Homo sapiens: one gene and its partners. The protein of the gene in region 1 purifies or fractionates together with the protein of each later gene. This does not show direct contact. Each region holds a gene or a part of one and is shown in the gene's direction. Other genes may lie near its edges. The genes, in order: ADORA3, ATP12A, TBC1D9B and CAND2.

Region 1 (7,480 bases):
CTTGACCTCCCTTTCCAGGCCTCACCCTCCCTCCCACCAACACTGGCATGGAGTGAAACTCCTTGTGCTCAGACTACAGCCTGTGAGTCTTGGGCTCCTTGGATTGGCCTCAGTGGCTGGGCCCTGGTTAGAAGGCCCGTGTGGACAGAGGCTCCAGATCAGCCCCCGGCGCGGGAAAGCCCAGCCTGACCCCCGGGGCTTGATGGAGAGGCAGAGCCCGGAGAGTGGTGGGGGAGGGGCCTAGGAAGCGCCACCTTCAGGGCTGACCCTGAGCACTTGTCTTTTCTAAGCCTCAGCTGTCGGCTAGCAAACATGAAGCTCTATAAAAATGTAAGGCTTTGGGGAAGTGGTGATGGGGCCAAGAGGAAGTGAGCAAGCTGATTTTGTGCAACTCTGCAGACAGCCGTGGGGTGGGAGACAGCCTTGGGCAGAAGCCCCACCTTTCGCCTGCCTGACATCCGGTCTTAGCTGCCCGTGGACCAGCTCTAGGGCTCCAGAGGCCTTTTCCCTGGGCTCCTGCTAACACTGCATCTTGCTGTTTTTGTAGGCTGGCAACTGGGGTTTTTTAGGGTTTTCTGAGAAGCTGCAAAGGATCAGATGAATCATCTCTGCTGCCAGCCTCTCAGATTATTAAGCGGAACCCCAAGGGCAAGGTTGCAGCCTTGTGGTTGAGCTGTGCCCAGTGGCATCAGACCCAAGTAGGCCCCAGGCCAGGGTTTGGGACAGGTGAGGCCTTTCCCCTCCAGTCACTCTTCCTGTGATTTAAGCCAATGGTTTCTCCTAGATCTTTGCTTCCCTGATGGAGTTCAGGTTCTTTTAGTAGAATTTTAAAATTTATTTTTAATTAAAAAAAAAATAGAGGTGGGGTCTCAGTATGTTGGCCAGGTTGGTCTTGAGCTCCTGGCCTCAAGCAATCCTCTCACCTCAGCCTCCCAAAGTGCTAAGGTTGCAGGCTGAGCCACCACACCCAGCCTCTTCTAGTAAAATTGAAAACAGCCATGGCCTTTCTTTTAGGTGGGAAATTCTCCTGAACCACAGTTAACTACAGTTAACATATATATATATATATATATACACACACACACACACACACACACACACACATATGTGTGTGTATATATGTATATATATGTATATGTGTGTGTGTGTATATATATATGTGTGTGTATATATATGTGTGTGTGTGTATATATATATATAATATATATATATATATTTTTTGTTTTTAAGAAAAAAATTGTACCTTGATCCAATAAAAATGGTTTCCTTTCTGGCCCAGAGCTCACCTTGGGGCCCCAGCCTTACCAGCGACCTGCTCATGCAGTCATCTCTCTGGTCCTGCCATCTCTTCCTAGCTCAGAGCAGTTGCCAAATCTACATTATACTTGTGCTTTGTGCCCATAGTCTTGGTGGCTACTTTCTTTTTTAGATCTGAGAATACTGATCTCTACTGATTTTGATAGCATGGCAACATCAAACCCAGGGACTCCTTGTACTTTTGAAAGGTTTGTAGAGTTTATTTGCTCATTTACTTACTGAGGGCTGCCATTCGGAACCTGGGCTCCGAAGCAGAAGCCTGGGTTTGAATGCTGGCTTCGCCACTGCCTAGCTTACAACTTTGGGCAAGTTATTTAACCCCGCAGAGTCTCAACTTGCTCAGCATAATGGTAGTATCTATTTCATTCGAGAGCATTGAATGAGTCTGTGAATAGAAGCTGCTTAACACTGAGTAGTTGGTATGATGCAGAGCACTTAAGAGTCCTCGCTGATTTATTGTTTCCTTATATACCCAATGCCTAGTTTATGCCACCTGATTCACTGAAGTGCTTTCCTATTCATTCATCAAAAATGTACTGAGCACCCATGATCTGCCAGGCATCATAGTAGGGGCGAGAAATGCAGAAATGGAAAGTGGTGGTCCCTGTCCTCCAGGAACTTACAGGCTAAGCGGGGAAGTCATATACACACAGCACAGTGTGGTCCCAGAGGAGAGGTGAAGACTGGGAAGTTTTCTTCAAGGTCCTGTTGGGTAACAGTCTTGGAGGAAAAGTATTTGTTTTCTAGATGGACTTGGGGGAGAAGGGCCCTGCAAACCAGACAAAGAGTGTGTGCACAGGGGAGAGGAAGTGAAAGAGAATGACTCTGAGCCACGAGTTGCTCAGTCTGGTGCAGCCAATGGTGTCTGTGCGGACCCAGGTGACAGGAGACTGCAGAGGCTGGGAGACCCATCAGAAGGGTATAAGCCACTCTAAGGAGTCTGGACTTGATCCTAAGGCAATGTGCAGACCAAATGGTTTAGAAGGGGCAGGGGTCATCCTGGGCATGGAGCTCTGGCGTGGTTCCTCTGGTTGCCTGAGGCACCGAGTAGGAGGCTGCAGCATCTCCTACTTGAGATGTGATGAGGCACATGACCAAGAGTGGCTGTGCGCCATGGGCTGTGGGTGCAGCGGTAGGAATGGGCAAATGAAGTGACCTTCTGCCCCAGCCTCTCTGTCCTCTTTCCCAGATTGCCTTTTGGTTTTCAATCTACGGTCAGGTTCCAGGCCAAAATGTTAAGTGACTGTGAAAGTCCTTCTCCTCTGTTCTCAAATCACCCCACCCAGCACTGATGGACCTTGTCTATTCAGAGAACATGAAGGAAGGGCTTCTCTTGTTCACAGAAAAGAAACCCCCATGGTATGTGCAGAGAATTCTGAGGGTAGAATTCCCAGATGGGCAGAGGTGGCTGGGCTGGTGACCCTAAGTGTGTCTCCTGCCTTTATTCTCTCTAGTGGGTTATTCTTTCATGTGGTATCTTGCCTACAGCATGCTGTGTTTGGACACAAACCCCTTTCCTTGGTTTCTCTGACCCAGCTGAGATGGACTGATTCCAAAAGAACTCACCTATGTACTGGGGTAGGGGAGGGAGGGTTTTTTGCAGTATTTAACTAAGGTTCAAAGAGTGCTATATAGTGAGAAAGGCTTCTTTTTTTTTTTTTTTTTTTTTTTTGGCAGAGTGCTGCCTCCTAGAAATTTCTCTTGGTAACTTCCTTCTCTGAAGCACAGATAAAGAAAACAATTACAGTAGAAACATTTATGAGGGACACATTGGAGGCCGATGAAGCTTTTCAAGTTCCAGCAGTGCAGGGATGTGGGCAGAACTGACATTGGAAAATACTAGAATGATGGAAATTCAGTTGGAGAGGACTGCCCTTTTTAATGTCTGGGGAGTCTGCTCAGGGAGAAATGACAAGTCTGGCGGGGACAAGTATGGGATTTGGTAAGACTTGGATCAACTTGGGATACAGGGTGGGGGTCGGGAGTGGAATCAATGAATGATGCCAGAGCAGATCAACTAACAAGAGGACCCTGATGAGCCCCAGGCAGAGGCGTCTCCCTTATGCCCCACTCTGAAGTGTTTGTTAGTAAACACCAGAACGCCATTGTTGTTACTGCTGAATTTTATTTTGGGCTGTACATATTTAGATGCTTAAGGTAAAAATGATAAAGCCCTCAAGCCACTGTGTGGGTTTGGGTCCAAGTGTTCCTTCTTGCTGCCTCTCTAACACGCCTGGTTAAAATAATCCCTTTGGATGGTGCTGAGAAGCACCTGAACCAAGTGGGTCCCCAAATAACAATGGCGTGCAAGTGTCTGGTTCCCAGAAGTTGGTGACTAGGTAAGCAGCTTCAGGGAGAGGGGGCTGATTCCCAGACAGTCGCCTGTTCCTGCGGGGATGGGGCTGAGGCTTGGGGAATGTGGGCAGGAGGATATGCCATTTGATTCTGTTGCACACGTTCTTTTCCCTTCTTTCTGTATGTCTGGTCATTCTGCTATTCTGTCGTTCCTCACATAGGTTGGACATTGGCCGGCTGCCAGCATAAGTGCCAGTGTGATTTTGCTAGGGTGTGAGCTGAGAAAGAGAGGTGGAGGCTAAGCAGGTGTGATGCTTCTCAGAGGTGCTGAGTTTTTGCCCTTCTGAGCAGGGAATCTTTGCTTATCCCTTTGACCAAGGATCTTTGCTGCAAAGGCTGGGTATCGGCTGTGCTCAGCAAAGCGTCAACTCGTGCAAGAACTTAGCAGGAATAGTTCTGGCTAAGGTTAGGAGGCTGCCACCAAAGTCTCTTTTTTGTTCCTCTGCTTCTCCCGTTTGCCTCCTTATCATGAGATCTTTTTGCTAAGCTGGCAGAAAGATTGCATAGTCAGTGCTTCCAGCTCTGCTCCCACCTGATCCTGCACTGTCCTCTGGTCCCTGAATGAATGAACTCTGATACCCAATCTTGTCTCGAGCCTTCTCTATGCCACTCATGGCTCCTCTTCTGCTCTTTCCATCTTTTTGCTGAGAGTTCTGAGCTCTGTACTTCCTCTTGGCCCATCTCACTTCCTGAAACACCCCTGAAGAGGGTTGCTTATCTTGATGGAACTCAAAAAGCCAAAAAGCTGCAGGCAGAGGCGTTGAGGACATCTGTTTGGGGAACTAAGAGCAGCAGCACTTTCAGATTCAGTCCATATAGAGCTGTCCTACAGCATTCTGGAAACTTGAGGATGTGCGGTGCATAAAGGGGCTGGAAGTGACCCACCTGTGATGAGCCCTTTCTAAGGAGAAGGGTTTCCAAGAGATCACCCCACCAGAAAAGGGTAGGAATGAGCAAGTTGGGAATTTTAGACTGTCACTGCACATGGACCTCTGGGAAGACGTCTGGCGAGAGCTAGGCCCACTGGCCCTACAGACGGATCTTGCTGGCTCACCTGTCCCTGTGGAGGTTCCCCTGGGAAGGCAAGATGCCCAACAACAGCACTGCTCTGTCATTGGCCAATGTTACCTACATCACCATGGAAATTTTCATTGGACTCTGCGCCATAGTGGGCAACGTGCTGGTCATCTGCGTGGTCAAGCTGAACCCCAGCCTGCAGACCACCACCTTCTATTTCATTGTCTCTCTAGCCCTGGCTGACATTGCTGTTGGGGTGCTGGTCATGCCTTTGGCCATTGTTGTCAGCCTGGGCATCACAATCCACTTCTACAGCTGCCTTTTTATGACTTGCCTACTGCTTATCTTTACCCACGCCTCCATCATGTCCTTGCTGGCCATCGCTGTGGACCGATACTTGCGGGTCAAGCTTACCGTCAGGTAGCCTGCGGCGTGGGGTGGGCAGCAATTGAGGCAGCTGGGAAATGAGGCTACAAAGCCCAGAGCCCAGACTTTTTGAGTAAAAATGTATCCAAATTGGCCCTTGATGTTGAAAGAGGGCAATAAGTGTCTTTTTGTGATATGGTCTGTGAGGGGGTTAGCAACAATGGGCTGGGACTCAGGAGCTAGAATCAGAGGAATGCTCCAATCCTTTCTCCACTGACTAGGGGTGGGTGCTCAATCCCTCCAGCTGTAATTACTAATCCTTGGCTAAAAATGATGAAATCTTGATGCATCTTTAATTAGTAAAAAATGCTCTTCAGTTTTAGAAATGATAAAAGCCTACTAGATAAGACTTATTATTTTAGGAGAAGCAGGCAGATAAACATAAGAGGAGATAAACTGATGGTTCTGTTGTTTTGCAAATGTAGGTTATTATTTTATCTTTGCTTCCTATTCTGTGCCTACTTCAATGTTGAGAAAGGGATTCTTGGAATATATATATATTCCAATATATATATATTTATTATAATAAATATATGTATCCTATATATATTCATTATAATAAATATATGTATCCTATATATATTCACTATAATAAATATATGTATCCTATATATATTCATTATAATAAATATATGTATCCTATATATATTCATTATAATAAATATATGTATCCTATATATATTCATTATAATGAATATATATCCTATATATTTATTATAATGAATATATATCCTATATATTTATTATAATAAATATATCCTATATATTCATTATAATAAATATATATCCTATATATTTATTATAATATATATATCCTATATATTTATTATAATAAATATATATCCTATATATTTATTATATTAAATATATATCCTATATATTTATTATATTAAATATATATCTCCTATATATATTTATTATAATATATATATCCTATATATTTATTATATTAAATATATATCCTATATATAATATAATAAATATATATATCCTATATATATGTATATTTTTCCTCCTCCTCCTGAGATGTGAGAGCTTTTTTCGTAAAAATATTCTTCATTACATGTGACCATATGAATAGAACGAACTGCCAAATGGAGAAATCTACTTCCCCGGGTGACCTAAATTGCATTGGTCTCGTGTTTCTCGTCACTTCTCTGGAGGAAAGAGCAGAGTGAGGGAGCTACAAACAAGCTTTAGATGTAGACAGTCTAGGTTCAAATCCCAGATTAGAGATCTGATCTTGAACAAGTTGTTTAACTTTATCTCCTTTGGTTTCCACTCTGTATCACAGTGGTTACGATGCTCGGAACTCAGACTTACCTTGTTTTAGTTTTAGCCCCACCACTTCTAACTTGTAGAAGTTACTTGTTTGTGTTTCACTTTTTAATCTACAAAATGGGGATAATTGCACTATCCTCATAAAATGAAATGCGTTAACATATGTAAAGCTTTTAGAAACATACCTGTCACACAGTCTGTGCTCAATAAATGGTGGCTATCATTACTATTATTTTCACAATTGCCATCAATAAAATTGAGGTTATAATAAAATATCTCCTGTTTGTTGTGAGATTTAATTGAGATAAAAATCTACTGATACTTAACTATATTTGTTTCCTTTTTGTGGTCTGTATAGGCTGCTGTCAGGAAGGACAGTTTAAGGAGCAATGGGGACTCTTACTCTTACTGTCCTTTAAGGTCTCTGAAACACTTCAATACAATTTTGTAACTTCATTGATTCATTTAACTCAAATACCAAGTATGGATGCCCATGAAGATAGAGAAGCAGGAGCAGGCACAGGTAGAGGGGAAGTGTCGGGGAGGCATAGTATAATTTATGAGAATCTGCACAACAGCCAAACAGAACAGTGCCAAGAACAGCAGGCAAGCTTGCTTTGAGAATATCATTTCTCACCAGGCAGACAATCCTAGGAGACTTAGATGAATCTCAGCTCCCAGGAACTGAATAATTCTTAGGCTTACACCTTATTGGGAACAGAAGGAGTAAACTGAGTTCAAGGGGGACTTAAACTGCTGAATTCACCTGTGGATGTTTTTGAGTTAAAAAAAAAAAGAAAAAGAAAAGATAGGTAACAGTTGTATAGCTCTCAGTAAGTGGAGCCCTGAGTGGAGCACGTAAGCACTTGACTCTAGGCAACATCCTCCTTATCCATTCAAGAGTTTTCTTCTTTAGAAAAGTCCCCAGAGAAGTTTCCTGGATTTTTCTCCAATCGTTGTCTGCTCATCTTGTCTTCGTATCCAGTGGAGTTTAGCTGGAATCACCATAGGATATCAATGCTGCCCTCTCTTAGCAGAAGATTGGAGAATTAAGAGAGTATATGCCTTATCTCACCTCTCTCTC
Region 2 (7,032 bases), on another chromosome or scaffold:
TGGTGGGGGACATTGTGGAGGTCAAAGGAGGAGACCAGATCCCTGCAGACATCAGGGTGCTGTCTTCTCAGGGGTGTCGGGTAAGCGGCAAGGGGTATCCACCCCAAGGACCATGTTCCAAACCTGCTGGCTCTGGGGTCTTTCCCAGCATCAGTATAAGAGGCAGGGAATGAGGTACCCAGCTGTGAACCACCTTCAACATTTCTTCTAGGTGGATAACTCATCTCTCACGGGGGAGTCTGAGCCCCAGCCCCGCTCCTCTGAGTTTACCCATGAAAACCCCCTGGAAACAAAGAACATCTGCTTCTATTCCACAACGTGTCTGGAAGGTAAAAGGCCTCTGGCTCTCAGCCCACATGTCCACCTGTGTCCTTTCTCCCTCCTGGGCTCTCAGGTCTGTCCTTTGCCACACCCCGTTACAAAGCTCATCCCAGAGGAAGCATGGAACTGAAGGGCCTAGAGGACGATGCTTGGCCTTGGGAATGTGGTGTGCCTATCGATTGTGCCAGCCCCCAGAGAGGGCTGCAAGCTGGCTGCACACCCCTCCTGGCTGAGGACCCCTGGAATAAAGCATCTACTTCCCCTGTAGGCACTGTCACCGGCATGGTTATCAACACGGGTGACCGCACCATCATTGGCCATATTGCCTCATTGGCCTCAGGAGTTGGAAATGAGAAGACGCCCATTGCCATTGAGATCGAGCACTTTGTTCACATTGTGGCAGGAGTGGCTGTCTCCATCGGCATCCTTTTCTTCATCATCGCTGTGTCCCTGAAGTATCAAGTCCTGGACTCCATCATCTTCCTCATTGGCATCATTGTGGCCAATGTGCCCGAGGGCCTCCTGGCCACTGTCACTGTGAGTCCATGCTGTTAGACAGCCTGCACCTGGCCCTGTGGACACAGCACTGGTGCTGGGGAGGCGCCCACACAAACTGCAATCTCCCCCAAGTCCAGAGCACCACGCCCTCCCCGCCAGCGACAACCCTGGAACATTCTGCATAGACTGTTCCTTACAGAGACAAAAAATTTGTCATATTTTCAATATTTGACTGCGTTTTCCTTGAAAACGTTATGCTTTCAATCTGCAATTCACACAGCTTACTCTGCCCCATAAGATCTAGATAAGACAGACTCCACCATTCACAGGTTTTCTAGAAGCTTGATGCCTTCCGCACATTTCTTTGGCAGTTTCTACAACTTAGGCATTTAGGCACATTGCCACACTCCACTTACCTCTCTTACGAAAAAAAAAAATTCCTCCCATTTTTCCTGCCGAGGACTCCAGCCCTTTCCTGGCCAACCCCAGACCCAGCTGTTTGTATGGGCCCATGTCATTCAGTCCCTAGAGAAGAGCCCCCTCCTCCTCAGTCTCTCCTGTGGGGGTCTCAAGGGGTAGGAGAGGAGGGGGTTTATGTTTCCAGTTTTGTGACTACATGATCATTGGCCTGCTATTGTCCTGACCAAAGAAAAGAGAAGAAGTTTTTGAAGTCCAGGTCTCCTCTGACTCCAGGAGATAGTAATTTGGGGAAATTGGAGCCAAAAGAACCCTTTGAGATCTAGGGGTTTAAAAGAATCTTTAAAATATGGAGCTTTTAAAATGAAACAACATAAAGGCTGCTGAATTCCCCAAAGCAACAAGTGTGTCCTTTGGGACAACTCTTTGGCATGCACTGGTCAGTCTCTCTTACACACTCCTGCTTAGGGATCACAGGAGGCGTCGTGATTGTACGTGAACACGAGCCACAGCAGCGTGTCCGTGTTTGCTGCCCGTGGGTCCCTTGTTTTCTTCAAGTCATGAAGGAACAAGAAAAGCATCTCATATTTAATCTTTAAAAAAGGATTGTGGCATAGAGGGCTCTTGGCGGCGTATAAGCCACCAGGTCAGCTTAGCTGCGCTGACAACCACACCTCTCCCCTAAAACTAGTCCAGCTCTCTCCTAAAATTCAATCACAGCTCACATTGGCTATTTCTGTATTATTGGACCTGAGTTCAAATGAGGATTTTTCCCAAAGCGTCCTTCCCTCTCCTGCTAGGTGACCCTGTCGCTGACAGCAAAACGGATGGCCAAGAAGAACTGCCTGGTGAAGAACCTGGAGGCTGTGGAGACCCTCGGCTCCACCTCCATCATCTGCTCGGACAAGACTGGGACACTGACCCAGAACAGGATGACAGTGGCCCATCTGTGGTTCGACAATCAGATCTTTGTGGCTGACACCAGTGAGGACCATTCAAGTAAGTCTTATGGAGAGCTCGGTCTGGCCAAAGCTGTGGACTCCATCCTGGGGCTGAGCTGAGCACACAGCAGGGTCTGCAGCCAGAGGATTGCTGGACAGTGACTCATGGACGGCCAGCCCAACCCACAGCAGCCACTGTTCTTTCTCTGTCTTCCAGACCAAGTCTTTGACCAAAGCTCTAGGACTTGGGCCTCCTTATCCAAGATAATAACATTGTGTAACCGAGCAGAGTTCAAGCCAGGACAGGAAAATGTCCCCATCATGAAGGTAATGCTTCTGCAGCACTTGGTCTTAAATCACAGCCAGTTTGTAGTCACTTGCTGAGGTCTGATTGGGTGCTTGATTTCATCTCTCCAGTTGCTTAAAGTTTGTTCAGTGCTTGCAAGAGCAAGTCAGACTCACAAGACATCCAGAAATTTTTCTTTATGCACACTAGCTTTGAGAATACAAAGATGCTTAAAAGGTTTCAGAATATTGCTTTAGCGTCTTCAGAAAATTCTGGAAATGAATGCACTTCTAAGTTACTTTCCTGACTTTTCTGCCAGCTAAGTGGATATAATCAAAGTTCCTTTTAATATACACACCATTCATGGAAATTTAAAGTGTGATTGAATAAAAATAAAAGGACTCCTGTTAACTAGAATATGGCTGCAGACAAAGCTCTAAGGGGTCCTGGAATATCGGAACATACAATAAACTCTCCCCCTCCCTCCCTCTCCTCCTTCCCTTCCTCCCTTTTCCTCTCCATCTCAATGAGTCACTGAATCCCTGTTCTCCTGGCTTTTCTATTTGCCATCTGTTTCCTTCCCTGACTCTTTTTCTTTCTTATTTTTTTGTTTGTTTGTTTGCTTTTCTCTCCGTCAGACAGCTCATGAATGCTCTTTTTGGCCAATTGCTTCTTTGTCGATATCTTCCAAATCTTTATGTCCAGCTCTAATTTCTTACCTCAACTCCAACCCGAATCTCTGGCTGGCTGTGTGCTTCCGCTAGGAAGTTGCACAAATCATGCTTGTTAACTTCCACCCGTACCCAGCCTGGCTGCACATCAGTGCCTTGCCGCAATTTTCTAATTGTCTATGATATAACCATTCTATTTGTCATTGGAACAGAATATTTGGAAGTCATCTTTGACTTTATCCTTTCCTTATATCCAGTAAGCCACCAAGTTCTATCATTCTTGCTTCAAAATATACATAACTTTAGTATTTGTCAGCAGTACCTTGCATCTAAATAGCCGATTACCGGCTGATTGGAATTAAACCTCTTTGATTCCGGTTTATCCCTCCTGGGGTCTTTCTCGAATGCCACTAATTTCCCTTAATGGTGCTTTTATAGTCACTTAACTTTGCTCAAAATCTCTCCGTACTTCCCTGTTTTCTGCTTCTCAAGTCTAGACCTCAGGCTACCTTTCAGGGCCCTCCAGGTCTTGCCACACCCTCCACATCCGCTTGTACCTTGAACACTCACGGACGAGCCTGCCCCTCATGCCCCTGCACCCGCATCCTGGTTTCTGGAAGGCTTTCTTCTCTGTGTATCGGTAACCCACCTATCTATCAAGATCTAGTTCGTAGCTGCTTTTTTCCACGAAATCTTCAGTCCTCGCAGAGGTCCAGCTTCTCCAAACATCCCTAATGCCAGTAGGTGGCACTGTTGTTTACACGCTTACCACGGTCTTGCGGCCCTCCCTGATCACGTGATAATGTCTCTCCAGCTAGGTGGTAATGGGATCAGGAGGGTGTGTTTTGGGTCCTATGCTGAGGGCATGTTGGTTCATTAAATATGTGCTGCAAATATTTTTCTTCTTTGATTCCCAGAAAGCTGTGATTGGAGATGCCTCAGAAACTGCTCTTTTAAAATTCTCAGAGGTCATTTTGGGTGATGTGATGGAAATTAGAAAAAGAAACCGCAAAGTAGCTGAAATCCCTTTTAACTCTACTAATAAATTTCAGGTGAGTTTTTCCTCACAACCGGTAATCTCTGTCATCGGCAGCATGACCTTTCTACTTGCATGCATCCTTTGCTTACCTCATATTTTGAAGGATACCTGGCTTCAAAGACAGTCGTCAGGGATACAGCACCCAGGCATCTGGTCCCCTAGGTCAAGCTCCCTTGCTGGCCTCCTTCCTAACCCTGAAGCAGGGCAGAGAAAGAAAGAAAGGCAAGGACTTCATCAGGGCCTGGCTGCTCCTATGAATGAGCCATCTCTGTCACAGGCACACACTCTCTCTCTCTCACACACACACACACACACACACACTCACACCACCACTATCAGGTACCTTCTGCCGTGAGGAGCAGCAGCCATACTCCAAAGCATAAATGCCAGGTGGGCAGCAGGGAGGCCGAACACCTGCTCCTCTCACCTCTAGTGCATCAGGCCCTCGACCTACGTGGCCTTGTTCCATGTTCGCATCCGGCCTGTGAGGTAGGACTGACGAATCCTGACTCAGAGGAGGAAGCAGGCCCTTAGAAAGTGTTGAGAGACCAGAGTCACACAGCACCCAGTGTTCCCAAGCCTGACACCAGGTCCACGATTCTTCCACCATCACACAGAGGGAGTGCGGCACAGTTCAGGCCATGGGAGCAAGCCCTGCCCTTTGGGGAGACCGGTGAGCAGCCCCTGGGGTGACAGCCCCGTCGTTTTCTGGGGCCAGCCCCTGTGCTGTGGGTGGGGGTCTCCTTTCCATCCCCTGCTCAGGTAGAAGACGGCCTTCCTTGCCTGGTTATCTCAGCAAGCAGGGCTGGCCGACAGTCAGCCATCACAGCCTCCCCATGTTAAGACAAATGACAGTTGGGAGCCCCAGGTCCCCATGCAGATGGGATTTTCCACAGAGCCCACACTGGATCTGGACTTGGGCTTTGCACAACAGTAAAGTATAGAAATGGAATAACCACAACTGTACGTGTGGAGATTTCTGGTGATTATCCACCTGTCTTAGTTCGGATGGAATTTAGGGTTAGGGAAGAACTCTTTTTTTTTTTTTTTTTTTTTTTTGAGAAGGAGTTTCACTCTTGTCACCCAGGCTGGAATGCAGTGGCACGATCTCGGCTCACTGCAACCTCCGCCTCCCAGGTATAAGCAATTCTCTTGCCTCAGCCTCCTGAGTAGCTGGGACTACAGGAATGCACCCCCTGCCCAGCTAATTTTTTTGTATTTTTAGTAGAGACAGGGTTTCACCTTGTTGGCTGGGCTGGCCTCGAACTCCTGACCTCCGGTGATCTATCCGCCTTGGCCTCCCAAAGTGCTGGGATTACAGGCGTGAGCCACCAAGCCCAGCCTAGAGAAGAACTCTTGTGTTGCAAATGTCTTCTTTGTGGATAGTGAGCCAACAGAGAATCACAGTTAGCTAAATAGACAACTAACCAGAAACATATGATGTAAAATACTCAAGCCAAGAAACCACATCTCTTACGTAAAACCAAAGTGAAAATAGAGTGCGCAACAGTCCTAAAAGACTGTTTTAGGATGAGTATTATTATACTAATAATACTAGTGATAATAGGAGCTATTCTGTGCTAATTTCCACAAGTATTAAATTATTCATTCGCACGACAACACTGTGGGGTGGCTAGAGGATGAGGAGGTTGAGGTGCCGCGCATCAGTGCACAGTGTGAAGATGGGGTTAGATGATGCCTCCATCAGCAGCAGGACTTGGAGCCCTGCTGAAGCTCCATCTCCCAAGGTAAAGGCATGCCCAGTTGCAAAAGGGAGAAAAAGCAGGTTCCATGAGGCCTCATGTACAAGTTGGAGGAGAAAGTGGCTACACAGAGTGGGACTAGAAAGGGGAGAGGGGGGCCGGGCGCGGTGGCTCACGCCTGTAATCCCAGCACTTTGGGAGGCCGAGGCGGGTGGATCATGAGGTCAGGAGATCGAGACCATCCTGGCTAACAAGGTGAAACCCCGTCTCTACTAAAAAAAAAAATACAAAAAATTAGCCGGGCGCGGTGGCGGGCGCCTGTAGTCCCAGCTACTCGGGAGGCTGAGGCAGGAGAATGGCGTGAACCCGGGAAGCGGAGCTTGCAGTGAGCCGAGATTGCGCCACTGCAGTCCGCAGTCCGGCCTGGGCGACAGAGCGAGACTCCGTCTCAAAAAAAAAAAAAAAAAAAAAAAAAAAAGAAAGGGGAGAGGGGCTGTGTGAGTTCCTGCTGAAGAGGTCGGAGGTGCTGTCTGGATGCTGTTAGGGTCATTTTATATCTACACATGAGCGGTGCTCAGCCTCACCAGGGCTTTAGATGTCATGGCCTTGGAAGGAGACGTCTCTGCGGGAAGGAAATAAAATGGAAAGCCTGTGTCTTATTGATTAGAATGGTGATGCCCCAAACACACTGGTCTGTTAAGACATTTGAAACAGTTTACGGCAAATTGGAAAATGTTTTATAAAGTTTTATATAAAGATGAATGTATTTAATTTAAAAGATTATCCTTTGTAGCCACCATGATTAAGGGCAGGGACTCTGGAGCCTGCTAGCCTGGGCTCAAATCCCAGCTCAGCCACCAGATAGCCACCTATTGCTCAGTGACCCTGAGTGAAGCATTGAACCTCTGTGCCTCAGTTTCCTCCTTTGTAAAAGGGAATAATAATAGTACCCATGGCCTTAAAGTTGTTTTGAGAATAAATAAGTCGATGTGGACAGCACTTAGAACAGTGCCTGGCACGTGGTACATACCATAAAAGTGTTTCATATTATCCCTATGTTTTAAATGTAAAAAGCCTTATCTTGGCCAGGTACAGTGGCTCACACCTGTAATCACAGCACTTTGGGAGATCGAAGAAGGCAGATTGCTTGAGCCCA
Region 3 (7,032 bases), on another chromosome or scaffold:
TGGGTAGCGTCACCATCCTGTCTGCCTCCGGCCAGACTCAGCCTTCAGGGGCCTCAGTCCGGCCCTCCCCTCACCCTCTATGTCTCTCTGCCCTGTTCCCAGGTCTTCTCGTGGGCACCCTGGACGTGGTGCTGGACTCCAGTGCCCGCGTGGCCCCTTACCGCATCCTGCACCAGACCCAGGACTCCCAGGTCTACTGGACAGTGGCGTGTGGTAGGTGCCCTGAGTGGTGAGGGGTGCTGGGCAGGGCCTGCCCTGGAAGGGCCGTTGCCGAGAGGAAGGGGTGTGTAGCCCACGTGTCTGGGTGGTATTCCCTGCTGACAGCATAGCCCAAGGCTGCAAGAGGGAAGTGGAGGAGCCTTCGCTTCCATCTTAGAAAGGCAGCTCCGTGGCCCGGTGCGGTGGCTCACGTCTGTAATCCCAGCACTTTGGGAGGCCGAGGCGGGCTGATCACGAGGTCAGGAGATCGAGACCATCCTGGCTAACACGGTGAAACCACGTCTCTACTAAAAAACACAAAAAATTAGCTGGGGGTGGTGGCGGAGGCCTGTAGTCCCAGCTACTCGGGAGGCTGAGGCAGGAGAATGGCGTGAACCCGGGAGGCGGAGCTTGCAGTGAGCCGAGATCGCGCCACTGCACTCCAGCCTGGGCGACACAGCGAGATTCCGTCTCAAAAAAAAAAAAAAAAAAAAAAGGCAGCTCCACTGGTCATGGGGACAGGGCAGGAGAGGACAGCCCCATGGATCCCCATGTACCTCTAGGGACGCAGGTGTGGGGCTAGCCAATGTCCACATTCTCATGCCACCTTTTCTCAAGGTAGACGTAGTCGGCCTCATTCAAAGATTCCATATTTGCAAATTGGCCTACTCAATAAAATGTATTTGCAATCCCCAAATCAATACTTCCAGCGATTTTGTGGTCATTTGGAGACACTCATGGACACATGCACGTTCAAAGCAGTGAAAAATTTGACTCGCCTGATGCCCATGTCCCCAGCTGAGGCAGAACAGGACGACGCTCTGCCTTCTTGATTCAGCTCTCATACTGCACTCACGTGTCCTGTTCACAGTCTCTGCAGTGCCATGTTTTTCCCATGTTTGTGCTCGTTGCTGATGACTTGGCTGTTTAAAATGGCTCCCAAGCATAGCGCTCTTGTTCCTAAGAGCAAGAAGGCTGAGTTGTGCCTTGTGAAGGAGATCTGTGCATGAGAGCAGCTTCATTCAGGCGTGAGTGATAGTGCTGCTGGCCGTGAGCTCAATGCCAATCGATCAGGAATACGTATTAAATAAGGCATCTTTAAACAGAAACACATGTAAAACAGTTATGTATCGGTCAGTCGACAGAAGTGTGATTAGAGGCTCCAGGAACCTAACCCTGTGTTCCCCCGGGGTACTGGTTCAGGATTCGCTAACTCAGTGTTCGCGGCCACCTTACAGAATCTGACCACCTGAATAACGAGAATCCGCTGTAGTTGTCCTCCTAGGTGGAAGCGCACTCACCCGTCCAAGAGTGCGGAGGGAAGTCCCCTTTCAGCGGGTACCTGCTGGGTTGAGTTTGCTCTGAGAAAATGACAGTCCTAGCTGACGCTCAGACAGTGCTTCCTGTGTGCCAGGCACTTGCCTGAACCACCCGGTACCTCCAGAAGGCATAAGTACTTTGGTCTTCTCTATGTTGAAGGTGAAGAAACTCTGGCCCAGAGGGGTTGAGTAACCTGCTCAGAGTCACACAGCTGCAGTTTGGACCCTCTCAGTACCTCTCTGAAGCAGAAGCCACAGTGCCCTTGTTCTCCAGGGTAGTGGTTTCCCTTGAAGGCCTGGGAGAAGATGATGAGACTCAAAAGTTTGTCAACCTCACGGCTGGAACCCAGCTTCAGGAGGGGAAGGGTCAAGGAAGTAAAAGCACAGGGCGGGCGGCACCCCGGGAATAGCCCCACTCCCAGGTGGGCGCTCTGCACGGGCATCCTGACCAGCAGTGCCCTTCTCCTTTGCAGGACTGAATAACTCAGTAAGAGTTAGGAAGGGGAGTTTGTCCAAGGCCAAGCAGGGAAGCCCAGTTAGACCCCCGATCTCTGGCTTCAGAGCCTGAGTGGACCCTGGGGGCAGCAAGAGTTTGCCAGAGGAGGGGCTTCCTGTGGGGAGGGGACCATTTCTGAGTGGGCCAGGAGGTTGGTGTGTGCTAATGAGGAGAGGAGCTGCTTTAACATGGGCCCTTGAGATTTCCATCTCTGGCAGCAAGAGCTGCCCGTCCCTGGGGAGAGAAAAGTACGAGGGGCAGAGTGGGAATCCCTTTAGTCACAGCAGGCCTGGTGCTGGGGAGGGGCCCAGCCACAGCCACGCAGCGGAGCCCATGTACGTAGCCCCGTGCCACACACTTGACCTCTCCCCTCCTGCCAGGCCCAAAGCCCTGCACTGGCCCTGGCTGTGCCTCCCTTTCCTGCCAGCCAGGCTAGGCCCCAGAAGCAACTCACCAAGACCAGACATGGCCCTGCCAGCACCTGCTTAGTGAGTCCTGACCCTTGAGCCTGGTGTTCGAGGACACCTGGGGGTCTGCCTGCCTCCATTTCTGGCCTTGTCTCCCCAGCTCACAGCCTGGCCTTCAGCCGGACCACACAGCTGCAGGGCCTGGAGGAGCCACACCCCTCCTGGCTGCTGTGCCTAGTGTCCGCCATGCCAGCTAACCTTCCCTCCCGCTCCTCTGAGAACTGCCCAGACTCCACAGACCCATCCTTCCTCCTTACTCCTCTGGACATGACGTGTCTGCACACGCTTTTACGTGGAAGCCCATGAGGCCGGGAGCTTCCGAGGGTGAGGGCAGGCTCTGCAGCCAGGCACCCAGGGTTAGGATTCTGATTTGATCACTTCCCAGCTGTGTGACCTTGGGTAACTTATTTCACCTCTCTGTGCCTCAGCTTCATCTGGTAAAATGAAAATAATGGTACCTGTCTCCACTGTGTTCTGAGAATGAAATAAGATAATCCATGGAAAACTCTGAAAACAGAAACAGCATTTAATACTCTAATTAGCTATTATATTATTTTTATTCCCAGCACCTAGCATAGAGATGGAATAGTTTCTTAGTATGAAATGAAGATTGAGTTACTTTTAACTAATATTTTTAATGCACATATGTAAAAAAAGAAATGTTTTTTTGAGGCGTTCTCTTTCTGTTGCCCAGGCTGGAGTGCCGTGGTGCAATCACAGCTCACTGCAGCTCTCTGGCTAAAGCGATCCTCCCACCTCAGCCTCCTGACTAGCTGGGACTGCAGGCCCACGCAACCATGCCTCATTTTTTCTATTTTTTGTAGAGACAGCCATGTTGCCCAGACTGATCTCAAACTCCTGGGCTCAAGCGATTCCCCTGCCTCAGCCTCCCAGAGTGCTGGGATTATAGGACTGAGCCACTGTGCCCGGCCTATAAATATTTTTAATTAAAGTGCTGACACATCCACACAGGCAGCGAGGAGGAGATTTCTTCTGTTTTAGTTTTCTAGGAATGTTATGTGTAACAGAAAATAATACAGTAGAGTTGCACCACATGTAAATTTGACTTCCAAATTCAACTGTGGGTTCCTGGCAAAGAAACCGAAAAAGAAATCTCTACCTACCAACTAGGCCTTGGCCTCTGTGCATCAGGGAAAGGAGGCTGTAATAGAAATGCAAAGAAAAATGAAAAAAAAAGTTTAAAGTGAATTATGGATGACTTAAGGGGCTTCCAGGAGTAATTCTGGGGGCCTTTTGTGACTCACTGCAAGCTGTGTGATTCTGGGTGGAATCGTTTTCCCGTGGGCATCCTCCCCCAGGCCAATCGGGAGGATCTATCCTGTGGCCTTGCTTCTTAGGTCAGGGTCTGCTTGAGGAGATTTGACAAAGCAAACAAATCAGTCCCAAGCAGAACAGCCGGGCTGTGACACAGCCTTGAGCGGGTGCCACGGGCTGGAGCAGGTGACAGGCCCAGCCTGGCCTGGAGGGAGGGTCAGAGCTGTCTCCAGCTGGCAGAAGAGCCTGGTCAGGGAGGGAAGGAAGGTGGTCGGGGCAGGCGTGCCAGCAGAGACGTCTGGTTCACAGTCACACTGGCCTCCCGAGCATAGTGCCGTAGTGCTCTTGTTCCTAAGAGCAAGAAGGCTGAGTTGTGCCTTGTGAAGGAGATCCGTGCATGCGAGCAGCTTCTTTCAGGCGTGAGTGATAGTGCTGCTGGCCGTGAGCTCAATGCCAATCGATCAGGGATACGTATTAAATAAGGCATCTTTAAACAGAAACATGTAAAACAGTTATGTATCGGTCAGTCGACAAGAGTGTGATTAGAGGCTCCAGGAACCTAACCCTGTGTTCCCCCAGGGTACTGGTTCAGGATTCGCTAACTCAGTGTTCGCGGCCACCTTACAGAATCTGACCACCTGAATAACGAGAATCTGCCATGTCTTGGCTGAGGCTGTCTTCATGCCTGGTGGGTGGGCCTCCTGTCCCACCCCCGGACAGCTGAGAATGATTCAGGGTGTCATTCACTCCTCATCCTTGTGTTCATTCAGTACAGGCAAAACCCCAGAAACAGGTGCTGGGGGTAGGGGAGCCAGGCCAGGCAGAGATCTCCCCTCATCCCTTTGCTCTTCCCCCGGGGCTTCTTCCCCGATTCCTTAATGGGAGCAAACAATTCTTCCAGCCTTTGAAAGTGGCATCGTGCTGCCTTCTCTACGTTTTTGTTTTGTGTGTTGTTTTGTTTTTTGAGACGAGGTCTCACTTTGTCACTCAGGCTGCACTGTAGCCTCCGCCTCCCAGGCTCAAGCAATCCTCCCACCTCAGCATCCTGAGTGGCTGGGACCACAGGTGCATGCCACCACGCCCAGCTAATTTTTTGTATTTTTGGTTTCGCCATGCTGCCCGGGCTGATCTCGAACTCCTGGGCTCAAATGACCCTCCTGCCTCAGCCTCCCAAAGTGCTGGGATTACAGGCATGAGACACGGCGCCCAGATTTTCTCTACATTTTTTTTAATTTCCGTTGGGCCTATGGAGGACAGGGACCCCCTCCCTCCTAGGTGGGGCAGACACAAGGTAAGAAGGTGGCCAGGAGAAACTGAAGAGAGGGACAGTAGCTACTCGCCTGCCCAGCAGGAGCCTCGCTGGCCAGGGGCCTGGAGTCTTGTAGGAAGCTCCGGCTGCTTATCTGTGGATACCTAGATGCTCAGGAAAGAGCTGGACTCATTTATACAAAGTATGACTGTGTCTGATTAATCACCTACATAGCAAAAGCCACATTAAGTTCTTTCAACTTGAGGAAAAGTGTAAGTTAGCAAGCTTGCAGGCACACAGACTATTTCTAGGACACATAGGAGACTTAGTGACTCTCCCTGTTGGCTTCAGGGACAGGTGGAAACATTCTCTCCCACACGACTGTGATTCAGCCTGGACGTTTAATTTTTTGTTTTTTTACCAGGACCATTTATTACTTTGTTATGCACATATCCATCAGCTTAAGAGGGAAAAGCAGCTTGAAGATTCTGGTCACTTAGATTTAGCAAATGAGGTCACCCACTTTCATCTCGCTTCTTTGAATGTGCGTTTAAGGCCTGGGGAATTCATGATTTTTCTTTTACTTTACCAAACCTCTTCTAGGTTCTTCCCGCAAAGAGATCACAAAACACTGGGAATGGCTGGAAAATAACTTGCTCCAGACACTGTCCATCTTCGACAGTGAGGAAGATATCACCACCTTCGTCAAGGGCAAGATACACGTAAGGTTTACCCGCCACTCTCTGTTCTCACCCTTCCCTGGCCAGCAGTGTTCTCGTGTATTATCCTATTTCATCTTCACGATGTAGGGTGCGTCCCCATTTTACAAAGGTGGAGACTGAAGTGTCAGCGCTCCTTCTCTTGGAGTTGAAAGGGGCAGAGGAACTCGTGACCCAGGAAAACCCCTTCTTACCCTGGGTGGGCACTGGAGGCTGCTGAAGCCTAGTGCGGGGCTTCCATTCCTACCCAAGTGCCTTGGAAGGCGTACGCAGATAGACGGTTCTGTTTGCCAGAAGAGATGCTGGAAACAATTGGATATTTTGAGTTGTTTTTTATAATAAAACTAACGTTATTTTAAAAGACACATGCCCTTTACCCAAAAATTCCATTCTTGGCGTTTACCCTACAGTGTATTCATATATGCAGAATATACAGTTTAAAGGGCCAGGTGTGGTGGCCCACACCTATAATCCCAGCACTATGGGAGGCCGAGGTGGGTGGATCATCTGAGGTCAGGAGTTCAAGAGCAGCCTGGCCAACGTGGCAAAACCCCATCTCTACTAAAAATACAAAAATTAGCCAGGCATGGTGGCACGCGCCTGTAATCCCAGCTACTCAAGAGGCTGAGACAGGAGAATTGCTTGAACCCAGGAGGCCGAGGTTGCAGTGAGCTGAGATCGTGCCACTGCACACCAGCCTAGGTGACAGAGTGAGACTCCATCTCAATTAAAAAAAAAAGGCCAGGTGCGGTGGCTCAGGCCTGTAATCCCAGCACTTTGGGAGGCCAAGACAGGCAGATCACGAGGTTAGGAGATCGCGACCATCCTGGCTAACACAGTGAAACCCTGTCTCTACTAAAAATACAAAAAAAATTAGCCGGGCGTGGTGGTGGGCACCTGTAGTTCCAGCTAATCGGGAGGCTGAGGCAGGAGAATGGCATAAACCCGGGAAGCAGAGTTTGCAGTGAGCCAAGATGATGCCACTGCACTCCAGCCCAGGCGACAGAATGAGACTTCGTCTCAAAAAAAAAAAAAAAAAGTAGAGATGGGGTTTTGCCATGTTGGCCAGGCTAGTCTCAAACTCCTGACCTTAAGTGATCCACCCACCTTGGCCTCCCAAAGTTATGGGATTACAGGCATCAGCCACCGCACCTGGCCTGAATGTATATGTCTTTTTCTTTCTGTTAGGTTATTGCCTTAAGTTAGATTCATGGGAGGGCTCTTACCAGGTCAAAGTCGTGTGGTGCAAAGTTGCTTTGGGCAGGCCCATGTGAATTCCTGATACCAGAACTTCCTAAGCCTGGACAGA
Region 4 (7,032 bases), on another chromosome or scaffold:
GGCCTGAGATAACACAACTAGGAATTGGCATAGCTGGGCCTTAGAGCCAGGTCTGTCAGGCTCCCCCACCTCTGCACTGCCACCGTGTACCCTTTTATGAATGGCTTTCAGGAGATAATGTCTTTAACCCAGCAGAGGAAAGCTCTGATGGTGGAATGGCAGGCACTGGCAGGGGAGCAAGATGTCTCAATGGGGGTGGACTTGATAGCTTCTTTCCTCCTATGCCTGTGGTCCTGTCTGTCATTCAGACAGATTTCCAGGGCAGAGATGCCCCTAGGCCTGAAGGCAGGGCATCGATGGAGACGATGGATTTAGAGCCTGATGGGGTACTTGGAACAAGATGGGATGGTAAATGAGATTGGACAGGCATGCGGGGGCCTTGAATGCCAAGCCAGGGAGGTGGGACACTTGTCAGTAATAGAGAGCTAAGGATGTGTGTTCGTGGGTGGCCTACTGTGGGGGTGACAGTGATCCATTAGAGGGGATGGCTGCTGAGCTGCCCGGTGGCCGTGGCCCACTGTGGCTGTCCAGACACCACCCTGTGGGTCCAAGTGGTCCACAGAGTGGTATGGGCAAGGCCATGCTGGGCTCTGAGCCTGTGCCTTGGGGTGCTCCCAGGCAAGACTGTCCCCCTCTGAGCCTCCTGTGTGCCTCCACAGGTGATAGGGCTGGGCCTCGTGGACCTGAATCTCAGCTCTGCTGTTCCTCGCTGTGTGCCCTGAGAGTCTCACCCGCTCTGAGTCTTAGTCTTATCGTCTGTAAAATGGAGCTTGGCAGTACCTTCACTTTTGAGGTGATGGTAAAGACTGCACGAGCCCTTGACTTTCAGGGAGATTGTCAGGTAGAAAGCCACACAAACCCAGCATTTCCTCTTTATTAATCCTGCCTGGAAGCCTTTGGAATCAGGACCCTTGAGAGGCAGAGATCGGGGGAGAGAAGAGGCCAAAGGGAGGCTCTGTCCCTTCTCCCTTCTGGAGTCCCAGTAAACGAAACATCACATAGCCAAACCTGATGCCAAAAGATGAGTTTTGTGCCCCAAATTGATTCTCCAAGTCTACATGAAGACTTGGAAGTCTGTTTTTTCCCTGGTACAGTCCAGACAATTAAGGGTCTGGAGGCAGAGGGGAGGACCCTAGTTTAACTCCAAGTATTTCCTTAACTTGGGGCAAGCCACTTCCTCTATCTAAACCCCAGTTTTCTCATCTCTATAATGGGGAAATAATCCCTGTCTCAAAAGGTCGTCATGAAGCTAAAATAAGATTATGGGTTTGACATGCTTAGCCCCATCCGTAGCACTCAGTAGATGCCCATTAAAAGGTAGGGAATGTTCCCCATAGGGTATCTATAAATGCTGATCATCAAAAAGTGAAGCACAGTGCCCAGCTCTCTCTCCTCCCTGTCCCTTCTCCCCCGAGCCACAGACCTGTCCTGGGAGATGAGGGTTCCACGTGTGTCTTGTTCCTGCCCCAGAGAGTGAAGACGAGTACAGCGATGACGATGACATGAGCTGGAAGGTGCGCCGGGCAGCTGCCAAGTGCATCGCAGCCTTGATCAGCTCGCGGCCTGACCTGCTGCCCGATTTCCACTGCACCCTGGCACCTGTGCTCATCCGCCGCTTCAAAGAACGCGAGGAGAACGTCAAGGCTGACGTCTTCACTGCTTACATCGTGCTGCTGCGGCAAACACAGCCCCCGAAGGGATGGCTGGAGGCCATGGAGGAACCCACCCAGACCGGCAGCAACCTCCATATGCTACGTGGACAGGTGGGCGTGCCTTCACCTCCACCCCTACCCCCGATTTGCCTACCCAGCCACTCACTGTTAGTGTCCCTGGACTTGGAAACTCAGCTGGGAGAACATCCAGCCATGGAAGGGAAGGGAAGGGGTCCCTGGGGTGGGGGGCGGGAGCCAGCCAGGCTTCTGGAGTGTAGTAGTGACAGCCAGCCTGCCTGAGTGAGCTTGAGCAAGTTGCTTGGTCTCTCTGTACCTGTAAAATGGACGCAGAAAATTTGCCTACTCTCCAAGGGTCTGTGTGCGGTCACCAAAAGCCTGGCACAGAGTGAGGGACGAGTGCTTGGGAGATATCTTGATGCCGACATCCTCCCTGGGGATGTGTCTGGCAAAGCCTCCTGGTAGTGGGCAGGTGGGTAGGTTTCTTGGGTGTTCCCTGACCTTGACTTCCCCCTCCTGCCCACAGGTGCCCCTTGTGGTCAAGGCCCTGCAGCGGCAGCTTAAAGATCGGAGCGTCAGAGCCCGCCAGGGATGCTTCAGCCTCCTCACCGAGCTGGCGGGTGTCCTCCCAGGCAGCCTGGCCGAGCATATGCCTGTGCTGGTATCAGGTAGGCTGGACTGCAACCAGGTATCTGCTGTTCTGGGCCACTTCCAGAACCCAGACCCCACCCCTGAGTTGAGCCCCCAGTTCCTGAGACAGTCTGAGACCCAATCCCAGGCTCAGTCCCTGGTCAAGAGTCTCCAGTGGCCTCCCACTACCAGCAGTGAGAACAAGGCTGGCTCCAGTGAGTTCCCTGGACATGTTTCCCTCAGCCCTGGCCACTGGTCAGGGCTGACTTCTTGGAAACTTCTGCAGAAGAGTTTAGGTGCTTCAGTCCAGCTCAGGCACTTGTAGGTACCCCAGCCTTGCTTCCAGGGAGGGCCGTGTTGCATCAGAGGCGGTGGCCTCATAACCTTTGCATTCACCCTGCAGGCATCATCTTCTCGCTGGCCGACCGCTCCAGCTCCTCCACCATCCGGATGGATGCCCTGGCCTTCTTGCAGGGGCTGCTGGGCACCGAACCAGCTGAGGCCTTCCACCCACACTTGCCTATCCTCCTGCCACCTGTGATGGCCTGTGTGGCTGACTCTTTCTACAAGATTGCAGCCGAGGCCCTGGTGGTGCTGCAGGAGCTGGTGCGGGCCCTGTGGCCGCTGCACAGGCCTCGGATGCTGGATCCTGAGCCATATGTTGGAGAGATGTCTGCTGTCACCCTGGCGCGACTTCGTGCCACTGACCTGGACCAGGAGGTGAAGGAGCGGGCCATTTCCTGCATGGGCCACCTTGTAGGCCACCTGGGTGACCGGCTTGGGGATGACCTGGAGCCCACGTTACTGCTCCTCCTGGACCGCCTGCGGAATGAGATCACCCGGCTGCCCGCCATCAAGGCGCTTACGCTGGTGGCCGTATCCCCACTACAGCTTGACCTACAGCCCATCCTGGCCGAGGCACTGCACATTCTGGCCTCATTCCTGCGGAAGAACCAGCGGGCTTTGCGACTGGCCACACTGGCAGCCCTGGACGCCCTGGCCCAGAGCCAGGGCCTCAGCCTCCCACCGTCTGCCGTGCAGGCCGTGCTGGCTGAGCTGCCTGCCCTGGTCAACGAGAGCGACATGCATGTGGCCCAGCTGGCTGTGGACTTCCTTGCCACAGTGACCCAGGCCCAGCCAGCCTCTTTGGTGGAGGTCAGTGGCCCTGTGCTCTCAGAGCTGCTGCGGCTGCTGCGTTCGCCCCTGTTGCCAGCCGGGGTTCTGGCAGCTGCTGAAGGCTTCCTGCAGGCCCTGGTAGGGACCCGTCCCCCGTGTGTGGACTATGCCAAACTCATCAGCCTGCTCACTGCGCCTGTTTATGAGCAGGCTGTGGATGGTGGGCCTGGCCTGCACAAGCAGGTGTTCCACTCATTGGCCCGGTGTGTGGCAGCCCTCTCAGCTGCCTGTCCCCAAGAGGCGGCAAGCACAGCCAGTCGCCTGGTCTGCGATGCCAGGTCGCCCCACTCCAGCACGGGGGTCAAGGTCCTGGCATTCTTGTCGCTGGCTGAGGTGGGTCAGGTGGCTGGGCCAGGCCACCAGCGGGAGCTGAAGGCGGTGCTCCTGGAAGCTTTGGGGTCACCCAGTGAGGATGTGAGGGCTGCAGCCTCGTATGCACTGGGCCGTGTGGGTGCTGGCAGCCTGCCCGACTTCCTGCCCTTCCTGCTGGAGCAGATCGAGGCTGAGCCCCGACGACAGTACCTGCTGCTGCACTCACTCAGGGAGGCCCTGGGGGCCGCCCAGCCTGACAGCCTGAAGCCCTACGCCGAGGACATCTGGGCCTTGCTGTTCCAGCGCTGCGAGGGTGCTGAGGAGGGCACCCGGGGGGTGGTGGCCGAGTGCATTGGGAAGCTGGTCCTTGTGAACCCTTCGTTCCTTCTGCCCCGCTTGCGGAAGCAGCTTGCTGCAGGTAGGCACACAGGTGTGGGCAAGGCAGCCCACCTCGGAGGTGGGCAGTTTGCCACTGAGCATCCAGGCAGCTGGGGCAGAGTGAGCTATTTCAAGTCACTGGATACAAGAATCACGGTATCTATACGACAGAGGCAAGGAAGCTACAGAGGAACACACAGTGATACCTGAGACTTAAAGCCTTCCTCCTATGGGACTGTGGGATAGAAGGGACAGAGTCCTTGATTGGTCCCTACAACAAATACATTTAAAAATCTCATGATGTTGGCTAGGCATGGTGGCACATGTCTGTAATCCCAGCACTTTGGGGAGGCTGAGGTGGGTGGATCACTTGAGCCTAGGAGTTTGAGACCAGCCTGGGCAACATGGTGAGACCCTGCCTCTACCAAAAAAAAAAACAAAACAAAAAACCTCATGATGCCAACTTCATAATCCTTGATGTGGACAGTAGCTTAGTGCTCCACACAGAGGTCAACAAAAACAGTTTTCCCAGTAGCCGTAGACTGCAGCCTGCAGAGGGTCAGCTCTTTCGGCTAGCCTGAGCCAAGAGCAGACGTCAGTATAGACGGGGACAGGCTGACATGCCCCCGAGGCTTGGAGAGGGCTGGGCAAGAACCAGGAGGGGCAGGCGTTTTGGCTTGTCGTGTTTTGGCACACCAGGTGTCTTAGCTTCAGGAGGTGGAAAGCAGACAGGTAGGGTCATCAGGCTCCTAGGAAAATGAGAGTTCCCAGAATGAAAGGCCAGTGGGCTTCGAGCTGGCCAGCTGGCCCCTTACAGAACCAGTGGATGCTCTGCTTGACAGAATGCAGGTACAGTGTTTGGTAACCTATGTGGTACCTACAGTAATTAATACTGAGTAAATCAAGAGCTGCTGTTGTTACTAGGTAGGTTAGTGATTTCAGTTAAGGCCTTCTTGGGTTGCTGGGTTCGTAAGAAGCAGTTGTCTGGCCTCAGGACTGGATGGAAGAACATTGTTGAGGACACTGTCTATTACATCACACAACCTTGAGAGACGAGAGTGTTAAGATGCAGAGGAGCCCTGCTTTGCCTAAACACCTATTTGTTTCTATCTCACGTGCACTGTTGAACCAGCCACCCGGTCACATTTCCTTTTTAGCACCAACTGCTGGGAAGCTTAGAGCCAGATGAGTGGTCTGCTTCTAGTAGGTTCCTGGGACTTCCTTATTGATGCTCTCTGTACATCTTCCTGCTAGTCTCCTTCTCACCTCCCTGCCTTCAGTCGTCCTTGGCCTTGTTCTTGTTTTCAGTTCACTTAATCTTACTCTCTTGTGCCTGTCTTCATCAGCCACCCTAAATCTTCCTGGGAGCCAGTCAGGCTGGCAAGGGAAAGAGGTAAAAGCTGAAAGTCTGAATTCAGTAACTCTTCCATTCATTCATGCCTTAGCACCAAATGGTAAACTTTTCCTCGAGGCTGAACATAAAGCCTGTGGGGTGGAAACACCTTAGCCCATTCACTGCATTGTGCTGGGGTTGGGCAGGGAGCAAAGGGGGCGAGCCACTGAGGAGAGATTCAGACGCAGGTGGAGCGTCCACCCATTCGTTTCCTTCATTAAGGGAATGTACTTCCCCTCTTTACTGGGCTTCTCTACTCAGAAAGCAAGCGGCAAAGCACAAGTAAGCAAGCTCTCTGTGACCGAGCCTGGAGGTGATCCGAGTTCTGTTAGGCCTCCCTGACCACCAGCCAGAACGCAGCCCCAGGAAGAGGGGCCCAGCCAGGAATTCTGGATCTGCTGTGTGGCCCTAGACATGAACTTAAACCCTCTGAGTCTCTCTTTCCTCATATGTCAAAGAGATGATTTTTATTGGTGATTTTATTGGTTCTTTTAATACTACTTTATTATTAATAGGATCATTGTTAGGACTCATTGAGATAACATGTCTGAAAAATCCCAAGGCCTGAGGGAAGGTCTTTGTTGGAGCAGTTCCTGTCTTGGTTATTGGTTCCCTGTTTGCAGCCTGTGGTGTTACCTGAGCACTGGCAGTCCTACTGTTTCAGCTGCAGCAGGAAGAATTGAGGGGAGATTCAAGGCTGCCAAGGGAAATGGTAGAATCCACTTTCCCAGAGATGGGGAGGGGGTACAGTTCTGTTTTCCAGGGAAGCAGGGGGAGGAGCCTAAGCACCTTCTGATCTGTGAGCCTCCAGGATTGGCCCCTGCCCCTCACTAACTCACCTCTTCTTGTCCTGCAGGTCGGCCACACACCCGGAGCACCGTCATCACAGCGGTCAAGTTCCTTATCTCGGACCAGCCCCATCCCATTGACCCCCTCCTGAAGAGCTTCATCGGTGAGCACCTACCTCTTGCCCCTCCACCTTGTTCAGTGCCCCCACCCAGTCCTTGAGCTTGGGCTGATGTTTACTACCCAATAGCCAAGGGCAATGGGAGACCCGGGAGGTGTGCCCATGATGGGCAGCAGGGCCTGGCCCTCCAGTTAAAAGGCCTGGGTTCACATCCCTGCCTTCCTACTGCCACTCAATCATGGGTGGGTGTGGCATGCCCATCACACCTCTAAGCCTCGCTTTCCTCATCTGTCAAATGGGCGTGAGAAACTCTTATTATCTGCATTTTCTAGAGTTGTCCTGGAAGCCCATGGGCAACTGAGGGAGAAGATGCTTCATCAACATATAGACTCTTGGGAATGGAAAACCACCAGCCTCTCACATGCCTTAGCTTTTGCGGGCCCCAAAGTGGGGCAGGGAAGAGTGCTCCCCCCGGCCCCGCCTGTCCACTAGATCGCCCTCTGTCTGAGGGGCCTTCTGGCCTGAGGAGCCCAAGCAGCCTTCACTGGGAGGAGAGGAACTGAGAC

What was found.
Region 2: the proteins of ADORA3 (region 1) and ATP12A purify together in Homo sapiens (affinity purification with mass spectrometry, with the first as the bait; 2 studies listed by BioGRID). This does not show direct contact.
Region 3: the proteins of ADORA3 (region 1) and TBC1D9B purify together in Homo sapiens (affinity purification with mass spectrometry, with the first as the bait; 2 studies listed by BioGRID). This does not show direct contact.
Region 4: the proteins of ADORA3 (region 1) and CAND2 purify together in Homo sapiens (affinity purification with mass spectrometry, with the first as the bait; 2 studies listed by BioGRID). This does not show direct contact.

Annotation. Positions count from the first base shown.
Region 1 is NC_000001.11:111,500,634-111,508,113, reverse strand, and holds the start of ADORA3 (adenosine receptor A3), read left to right. Parts: upstream 1-4,480; 5' UTR 4,481-4,759; coding exon 4,760-5,109; intron 5,110-7,480. Other genes in the region: TMIGD3 (transmembrane and immunoglobulin domain containing 3), read left to right, coding at 4,760-5,109.
Region 2 is NC_000013.11:24,690,393-24,697,424, forward strand, and holds part of ATP12A (potassium-transporting ATPase alpha chain 2), read left to right. Parts: coding exon 1-80; intron 81-211; coding exon 212-329; intron 330-571; coding exon of another isoform or gene 572-589; coding exon 590-858; intron 859-2,036; coding exon 2,037-2,235; intron 2,236-2,394; coding exon 2,395-2,504; intron 2,505-4,051; coding exon 4,052-4,186; intron 4,187-7,032. UniProt on the Homo sapiens protein: The catalytic subunit of a H(+)/K(+) ATPase and/or Na(+)/K(+) ATPase pump which transports K(+) ions in exchange for Na(+) and/or H(+) ions across the apical membrane of epithelial cells.
Region 3 is NC_000005.10:179,897,883-179,904,914, reverse strand, and holds part of TBC1D9B (TBC1 domain family member 9B), read left to right. Parts: intron 1-102; coding exon 103-213; intron 214-5,607; coding exon 5,608-5,726; intron 5,727-7,032. UniProt on the Homo sapiens protein: May act as a GTPase-activating protein for Rab family protein(s).
Region 4 is NC_000003.12:12,813,671-12,820,702, forward strand, and holds part of CAND2 (cullin-associated NEDD8-dissociated protein 2), read left to right. Parts: intron 1-1,470; coding exon 1,471-1,763; intron 1,764-2,196; coding exon 2,197-2,338; intron 2,339-2,703; coding exon 2,704-4,206; intron 4,207-6,415; coding exon 6,416-6,511; intron 6,512-7,032.